Homo sapiens: one gene and its partner. The protein of the gene in region 1 purifies or fractionates together with the protein of each later gene. This does not show direct contact. Each region holds a gene or a part of one and is shown on either strand. Other genes may lie near its edges.

What was found.
Region 2: the proteins of ATG9B (region 1) and GTF2IRD1 purify together in Homo sapiens (affinity purification with mass spectrometry; one large-scale study listed by BioGRID and IntAct). This does not show direct contact.

The regions. Positions count from the first base shown.
Region 1 is NC_000007.14:151,018,032-151,021,758, forward strand, and holds part of ATG9B (autophagy-related protein 9B), read right to left. Parts: intron 3,299-3,727; coding exon 3,157-3,298; intron 1,344-3,156; coding exon 589-1,343; intron 417-588; coding exon 263-416; intron 20-262; coding exon 1-19. UniProt on the Homo sapiens protein: Phospholipid scramblase involved in autophagy by mediating autophagosomal membrane expansion. Cycles between the preautophagosomal structure/phagophore assembly site (PAS) and the cytoplasmic vesicle pool and supplies membrane for the growing autophagosome.
Region 2 is NC_000007.14:74,456,807-74,460,611, forward strand, and holds part of GTF2IRD1 (general transcription factor II-I repeat domain-containing protein 1), read left to right. Parts: intron 1-3,805. UniProt on the Homo sapiens protein: May be a transcription regulator involved in cell-cycle progression and skeletal muscle differentiation. May repress GTF2I transcriptional functions, by preventing its nuclear residency, or by inhibiting its transcriptional activation.

The DNA of each region.
Region 1 (3,727 bases):
GCTCCTCCAGGAGGGAGACCTGGGGAAGCAGCGGTGAGGCTGAGCAGGGGTCGCTGAGGGGCCCACGCGCGTTATCAGGACCAAGCAGTCCCCAGCGACCCTCGCCAGGGCAAGAAGCCTCCCCACCCAGTCACTCCCTAGACTCCTGGTATAGTCCGTTTGTCTCATGCCCTCTCCCAGACAGACCCTCCGCGCAGACAGACCCTCCGCGCAGACAGACCCCACAACTTCCTCCTCAGCCCGCCGTCGCGCCCACCCTCACCGCTCGGTACTGCAGCAGCTGCGCCATCTGCCGGTAGGCGCGGTCCCTGCCGCCGGGGCCGGGCTCCTCCGGGAGGTAGTGCATGTGGGCCAGGGCTGTCTGCAGCAGGAGCTGCGGCGCACGACCCTGGCACTGCTCTTCCGGAATGAAAGACCTGAAAGGCGGGATCCGTGGGGGGAAGGGGCCTGCGATTAGGAGGACGCGCGGTGGGATGTAGGGCTAGAGGGCCCCAGTGGTGGGAGAGGTAAGGATTCGGGGGGAACCTCACATGGCCCCAGATCAGAGAAACCAACACACACCACCACCCCGGGCATCTGCCGTCGCACCTGGCGACGGTGGCGGTGACCCCGAGCGCGGTCATGGCGGTGAGCACGTGCTCCACGGCTAGCACGTCCTCGTCGTAGACGGTGAGCACAAGCAGCGCGGCGAAGAGTGCACCCGCGAAGAAAACGAGCTGGCGGGCCAGCAGCGTGCGCAGGGGCGCGGGGGGCGCAGCGGTGCGCAGGAAGGCGGCGGCGGGGCGGTAGGCGCGGGCCAGGCGCGCGCGCAGCTCGTGCGGCAGCTCGTTGAAGTGGCGCAGCTGCAAGCGCGCCAGGCGGGACCAGCCGCGCGCCCCCAGCGCGCCAGGCTCGCGCCGCAGCAGCTCCACGTGGCTATAGAAGACGTGCAGAACCTGCCAGGCCAGCACCAGCGGGCTCAGCGCCAGGTTCAGGGCGGCCAGCAGCAGCACTGTGCGCCCCCAGCGCGCTGCTAGGGCGCCCCGCTGGTCGCTGCGCTTGTAGGCGTGCGGCAGCTCCCAGCCCCCGCGGAAGAGCGAGAAGGGACCGCGGAAGAGCAGCAGGTCGACATTGAGCGCCAGGCCGCGGCTGAGGAAAGCCGCACTGCCTCCCCAGGGCAGCGGGCAGCGGGCCGGCAGCAGGCCTTTGTTGGCCAGCGCCACCTGGTAGTTGGTGTAGCGCAGGATGCGGTGGTGGATGTCCAGCTCCGTCAGGGGCCGCGGCTGCACGCACAGGCCCCCGCTCCGCTGCAGTGCCAAGAGGCGGGACTGCACCTCTGCCCAGGGAACCGAGCTCAGCTCCTCCTGAAAGGGGCACTGATGAGAGCCAGCGACCCCCCATTCCTCTCCACAGTGATGCTCAAGCTCCACACCCCTAAGTGTGCGGCCTGAAAACCCGCAAACTGAGTTTGCGATCACAAACTCGCCATGACCAAGCTACATCGTCCCCCTCTCCCACCTTTCTCTTTCTGCCCTCCCTTAACCCTGTCACTAACAAGGGCGCGCCCTACTTCCTTCATCCTCTTCTAAACTGCCCTGTTCATCATCCCTGCCATTCATGTGGCCAGTAGTCATGCACTTCCTGGGGACGCCTCCAGGTGCTGGACCTGGCTTCTCAGCTCCTTAAGGGCCTGAGGCCCCCTCAGTTGTACACACAAAACAGACTGGCTGGCCAGGGGCGGTGGCTCACACCTGTAATCCCAGCACTTTGGGAGGCTGAGGCAGGCAGATCGTCTGAGCTTAGGAGCTCGAGACCAGCCTGGGCAACATGGTGAGACACTGTCTCTACTAAAAATACAAAAAATAGCAGGGCGTGGTGGTGTGCACCTGTGGTTGCAGCTACTGGGGAGCAGAGGCTGCAGTGAGCCAATATCACAGCACTGCACTCCAGCCTGGGTGAAAGACCCAGACCCTGTCTCAAAAGAAACAAAACAAACAAAAAAACAAAAAACCAGAATGTCTGGCAGTTCGTGGGAGAATCTCTCCTTCCCATTTCTAGTGCACCCACCAACTCTGGAACAGAATCCTCCCCACCTTCTGCCTGGGCATGCTTTACACTCCCAGCCCCACCCGACTCCAGGCCATCTTCGGCTCTGTCACCAGAAGCCTTCCCAGGACCTGGGCTATGTCCACATCTGGCAGTGGGGCACTGTCAGATCTCATTTGAAGGCTGCAAACCTCACTTCAGCCCAGTTTCACTCAGCTTTCCCAGTCCAGGTTAGTCAAGTCCCCCAGGCTGGCCTCTCCAGTACATCCCAGTGTCTTCCCTTCCCTTCCCCTGGAAGGAACAGGGGAGGAGGGGAAAGAAGGGAGGAGGAGAACGAGACGGGTGAGCAGTCTCCCGCCAGAGCCAATCCGAGGTCCAGCTTCCGCTCTCACCACCTCTGCTTCCCCGGCCTCCTCCCTCTCCTCTGCTCAGGGGCCTTCTAAGACCTCTCCCCTTGCTGCACATAAAGGCTGTGCAGAGGGCTCCGGACCTCCCAGGGGAGCAAGGGAAGCAAGCTGCAGAAGGCTACTTTCAAGCTGTGCCTCAAAGAAAGAACTTAGATACAGAGGAGGGAGGAGCAGACTCAAGATGGTGAGGAAACAAAGGGCAGAGCATAAGCAGTGGACAGTGACAGGCCAATGCAGTGGCTTCCTGCAATGCGGGGGATGGCTTTGAAGGCTCTGTTTTAGGCTGATGGGTCCATCTCCTCACTGCAGCTTCCAAAAGCTCATGGCTTTTCCCCACCTTCCTGCACTGGGGCTTAGAATGTGCTCCCCTCCCCTCCTGTCCTGCCCTTCCGAAGCCCAACCCAAATTCCTCCAGCTCTGAAAAGCCAGATAACTGCCCTTTCTCTTTTCTCTAATCAATGTTTTTAGCACAAACATGTAACTATATGTCATCTTATATGAGCCATCTAAATAAACTAAACTCCCTTAGGGTAAGGGCCATGCTCTCTAGGTGGTGGTAGCCCCCTCCTGACATTATTCTGGGCCTAGGGCAGGTGTCAATAAGACCTCGCTCTTTCTGCCCTCTTTCCAGTTGGCCCTTCCACCTGTACAGTCCCACTTCTTCCCCTCTCCTCTGCCCACCCTCTCACGGCACCCTCTGCACAGACACAGCCACCCAGCTCACCGGGGGGATGTGCAGGGCCTCCCTGTAAAACACCTGGATGTCCCAGTAGCTGAAGAGGTTGCAGACTGAGCGAAGCAGTTGGACCAGCCAGAAGCCGGCAGCCAGGACCAGGAGGAGGACCAGCAGCGGGCTGGAGCGGATCCTGTATGGGGTTGGGCGGGCAGTGGGGGAGAAAGGTGGGCGCCTGAGAAAGAGGCAGACCAGACTTCGGGAGTGAGGAAAAACCATCATGAGGAGGGGGATCTAGCTAGACCAGCAGCTCTCAAGGTAGAGCCCGGGGCAGGGGGTGGGTGCTGAAGTGGCCTTCACAAATGTGCAAAGTCAAACTTTTTCCAAATAATACTAATGCTTTCTGATGTTTTCATTCTTGTACTCTGAGAGTACAGTGGAGTTTTCCAGAGGCTACAAGACACGTGAACATGTCACATCACACTGACAGCTGATGAAATGTGTGCTTGTACACTCTTTTTTTTTTTTTTTGAGATGGAGTCTTGCTGTGTCGCCCAGGCTGGAGTGCAGTGGCGCAATCTTGGCTCACTGCAACCTCCACCTCCCGGGTTCAAATGATTCT
Region 2 (3,805 bases), about 77 Mb from region 1:
AGGAGGCTGGGGGGCTTCCTTTATTAGCCCTGCCTGGCTAGGGTAGGGGGTCAGGATTATAGAATTTGCCTCTTTTCCTCTCCTTCAGGACTTGGCTTGGCTGTGGTATCTTTGGGCTGAAGACTTCCTCGTCCTCAGGGCTGGCCATGGTTCCACCTTTATATCCCCATGATGTCCTCTCTTTTTTTTCTTTTTTTCTTTTTTTGAGACAGTCTTGCTCTGTGCCCAGGCTGGGGTGCAGTAGTGTGATCACAGCTCACTGCAGCCTCGAACTCCTGGACTCAAGCCACCCTCCCACCCCAGCCTCACAAGTAGCTGGGACCGCAGACAAGGGCCACTACACCTGGTTAATTTTTTATTGTTTGTAGAGATGGGGTCTTGCTATGTTGCCCAGGCTGGTTTCGAACTCCTGGGCATGAGGAGTCCTCCCACCTTGGCCTCTCAAAGTGCTGGGATGACAGGAGTGAACCACCGCGCCTAGCCAACATCCTTTCCTTCCTTTGTCCCAACATTGATCTTACTCAGATGTTTACATCTCTCTCCCCAATTGCACTAGGGACAGGAAGGGATGGAGGCTTGCTCCTCAAATACTTGTTAAATGGCTACATGTTTGAATGAATGAATGAATGAAATCCTGCTCTTGAGCCTTGACCTAAATGGCTAAGCAGACTCTCTCCTATTTTTCTTAAATGCTCATCTCTGGGGCAAGTTCCCCACCCTGGTAGGAGTCCCAGGGTCTCTCCCTGAACTTCCTGGGGCCCCCTCTCTCCCCACTACCCCAGCCTGTGTCTTCTCCCAACCTTAACCCTGGGGGCTTTGCTCCCCAATGTCATCCTCTCTGTATCTCTCAGTTCTCTGACTCTCGCCGTTTGTAAGTATCTCTCTCTCAGATGCGTGGCAGCCAGGGTCACAGCCAGGTTCTTTGGGACAAGCCAGGGGTGTATGCCCAGCTCCATGGGGCCTGCAGAGGCTTCAGGGGACACCCATGGAAGAAGACCTGCAGGGCCAATTTATAAACAGAGGAGCAGAGCAGGACCCAGGGCTTGGAATCCATGCTGAGTTACGTTTTTGTTTTTTTTTTTTTTTTTTTGAGAGGGAGTCTCACTTTGTCGCCCAGGCTGGCATGCAGTGGCGCCATCTCGGCTCACTGCAACCTCTGCCTCCTGGGTTCAAGCGATTCTCCTGCCTCAAGTAGCCGGGATTACAGGCATGCTCTACCACGCCCGGCTAATTTTTGTATTTTTAGTAGAGATGGGGTTTCATCATGTTGGCCAGTCTGGTCTAGAACTCCTGACCTCAAGTGATCTGCCCGCCTCTGCCTCCCAAAGTGCTGGGATTGCAGGCATGAGACACTGCGCCCGGTCCTGAGTTCAGTTTTGATTGGGGGGCTTCCGGGATAATATGGGGCCGCTAGGACAGGGACCCTTAGTGTGACTGGAAGGGAATTTCCTGAAGGAATTCATAGCAGAGGTGGAGTGGTGGGAAGGATGGTTTCTGGGGGAGAAGGAGATGCGTGAACCTGGCCAGAAGACAGTGTGTTGTGACAGATGATTGCTGGTGAGGGGGTAACAGTCTCCAAGGTGTAGATGTTGGGGGCTCCAGATACGGCAGGAGGGGCCTGGCCTCTCGGAATCCCCTCAGCCCCATCTCATAGAAACATGTGCTTTCTACCCAGGCTCCATACTCCGGAAGGGAGGCAGGACCCTGTCACTTTCTTGGCCTACTTTGGAAGTTCTCAGTCAGGTATCTCCAGGTGTGGCAGAGGGGCTTTGGCCTGTAGGGGGTGTGGTAATGTGGGTTTTGGAGGCAGAAAGCTTTTCAGGAAAGCCCCCTGGTCCATCACCCCCCTTTCTTTTTTTTTTTTTTGAGATGGAGTCTTGCTTTGTTGCCCACGCTGGAGTGCAGTGGCACGATCCCAACTCACTGCAACTTCCACCTCCCGGGTTCAAGTGATTCTCGTGCCTCAGCCTCCCGAGTAGCTGGGATTACAGATGTACACCACCACACCTGGCTAATTTTTGTATTTTTAGTAGAGACGGGGTTTCACCATGTTCGCCAGGCTGGTCTTGAATGAACCCCTGACCTCAAGTGATTGGCCCTCCTTGGCCTCCCAAAGTGCTGGGATTACAGGTGTGAGCCCCCAGGCCCGGCCTCATCATCACTTCTTCACCCACCCTATTTTGGTAGCTCTCTCTCCACTCGTCCTGTGGAACTGATCCATTCTCGGTCCCATTCCCTTCTCTCTGGGCCAATCTGCACCTAGGTTTGTGGCTTCATGAGTATGGAGGGTCGTGCAGAAAGGGGCCAGGTCTGTAGGAACCTGGGTTCATGCCCTGGAAATTTGCCCATTTAAGATAAGTTAGGGCCGGGTGCGGTGGCTCATGCCTGTAATCCCCAGCACTTTGCACTTCGGGAGACCGAGGCGGGCGGATCACCTGAGGTCAGGAGTTTGACTAGCCTGGCCAACACGGTGAAACCCCATCTCTACTAAAAATACAAAAATTAGCCAGGCGTAGTGGCGGGCGCCTGTAATCCCAACTGCTCGGGAGGCTGAGGCAAGAGAATTGCTTGAACCTAAGAGGTGAAGGTTGCCGTGAGCTGAGATCGTACCATTGCACTCCAGCCTGGGCGACAAGAGTGAAACTCTGTCTCAAAAAAAAAAAGATAAGATAGGTGTCCTGAATAAGATAGGTGAAATGGGTGAGGATGTACTTTATCTTACACGGTCTTAGGGAGTGTCTCAGGCGGTGAACAGAACTCTCTCGCCCCTGAGCTGGGGCCTGGCTGACCCAGAGCTATTTGTGTGCCCACCTGTCACCCTCTTTCAGGACCACCTGCTTCAGGTTGCCAGATTTAGCAAATAAAAATAAGGATGCCCAGCTAAAATTGGATTTCAGACAAGCAAGGACTAATGCAATATTTGGGATGAACTTCTAGCTAAAAGTTACCTGTTGTTGATCTGTAGTTCAGACTGAACTGGAGGTCTTGCATTTTATCTGCCAACCCTACAACTGCTGCCTCTGGGGCGGTGAGATGGATGGGGTTTGGGGAGGGGCCAGAGGTGTGTGTGGCTGACCCTGGAGTTGGGATCAGGGCTCAGTGGAGGCCCCGGGGATGATCTGGAGCGAGTTTGAATCGAGTGGAGCTGATTCACTGAATCTTGGCTTTTTTTTTTTTAATTTGTATTGAAATGAGGTCTCACTCTGTCACCCAGGCTGGAGTGCAGTGGCACAATCTCGGCTCACTGCAGCTTCTCCCTCCCCGGCTCAAGCGATCCTTCTGGCTCAGTCTCCCAAGTAGGTGGGACCACAGGCACACGCCACCGTGCCCGGCTAATTTTTTGTATTTTTGGTGGAGATGGGGTTTCGCCATGTTGCCCAGTTCCTGAGTTCAAGTGATCTCAAAGTGCTGGAATTACAGAAGTGAGCCACTGTACCCAGCCAGCAGGGTCCTTTTTCATTTTTATTTTATTCTATTTTTTGAGACAGTGTCTCACTCTGTTTCCCAGGCTGGAGTGCAGTGGCGTGATCCTACCTCACTGCAACCTCCAACTCCTGGGCTCAATGTGATCCTCCCACCTCAGCCTCTGCACCTAGCTAATTAAAAAAAAATTTTTTTTTTTTAGAGATGGGGTCTTGCGATGTTGCCCAGGCTGGTCTCAAGCTCCTGGCCTCAAGCGATCCTCCCACCTCAGCTTCCCAAAGTGCTGGGATTACAGGCAGTATCCTTCTAATGTCCTTGGTCGGGCCTCCTCCAGCCTGTGGCTCGAGGGTCTAGATCTCCTACTGGCCTGGGTGGCATGGAG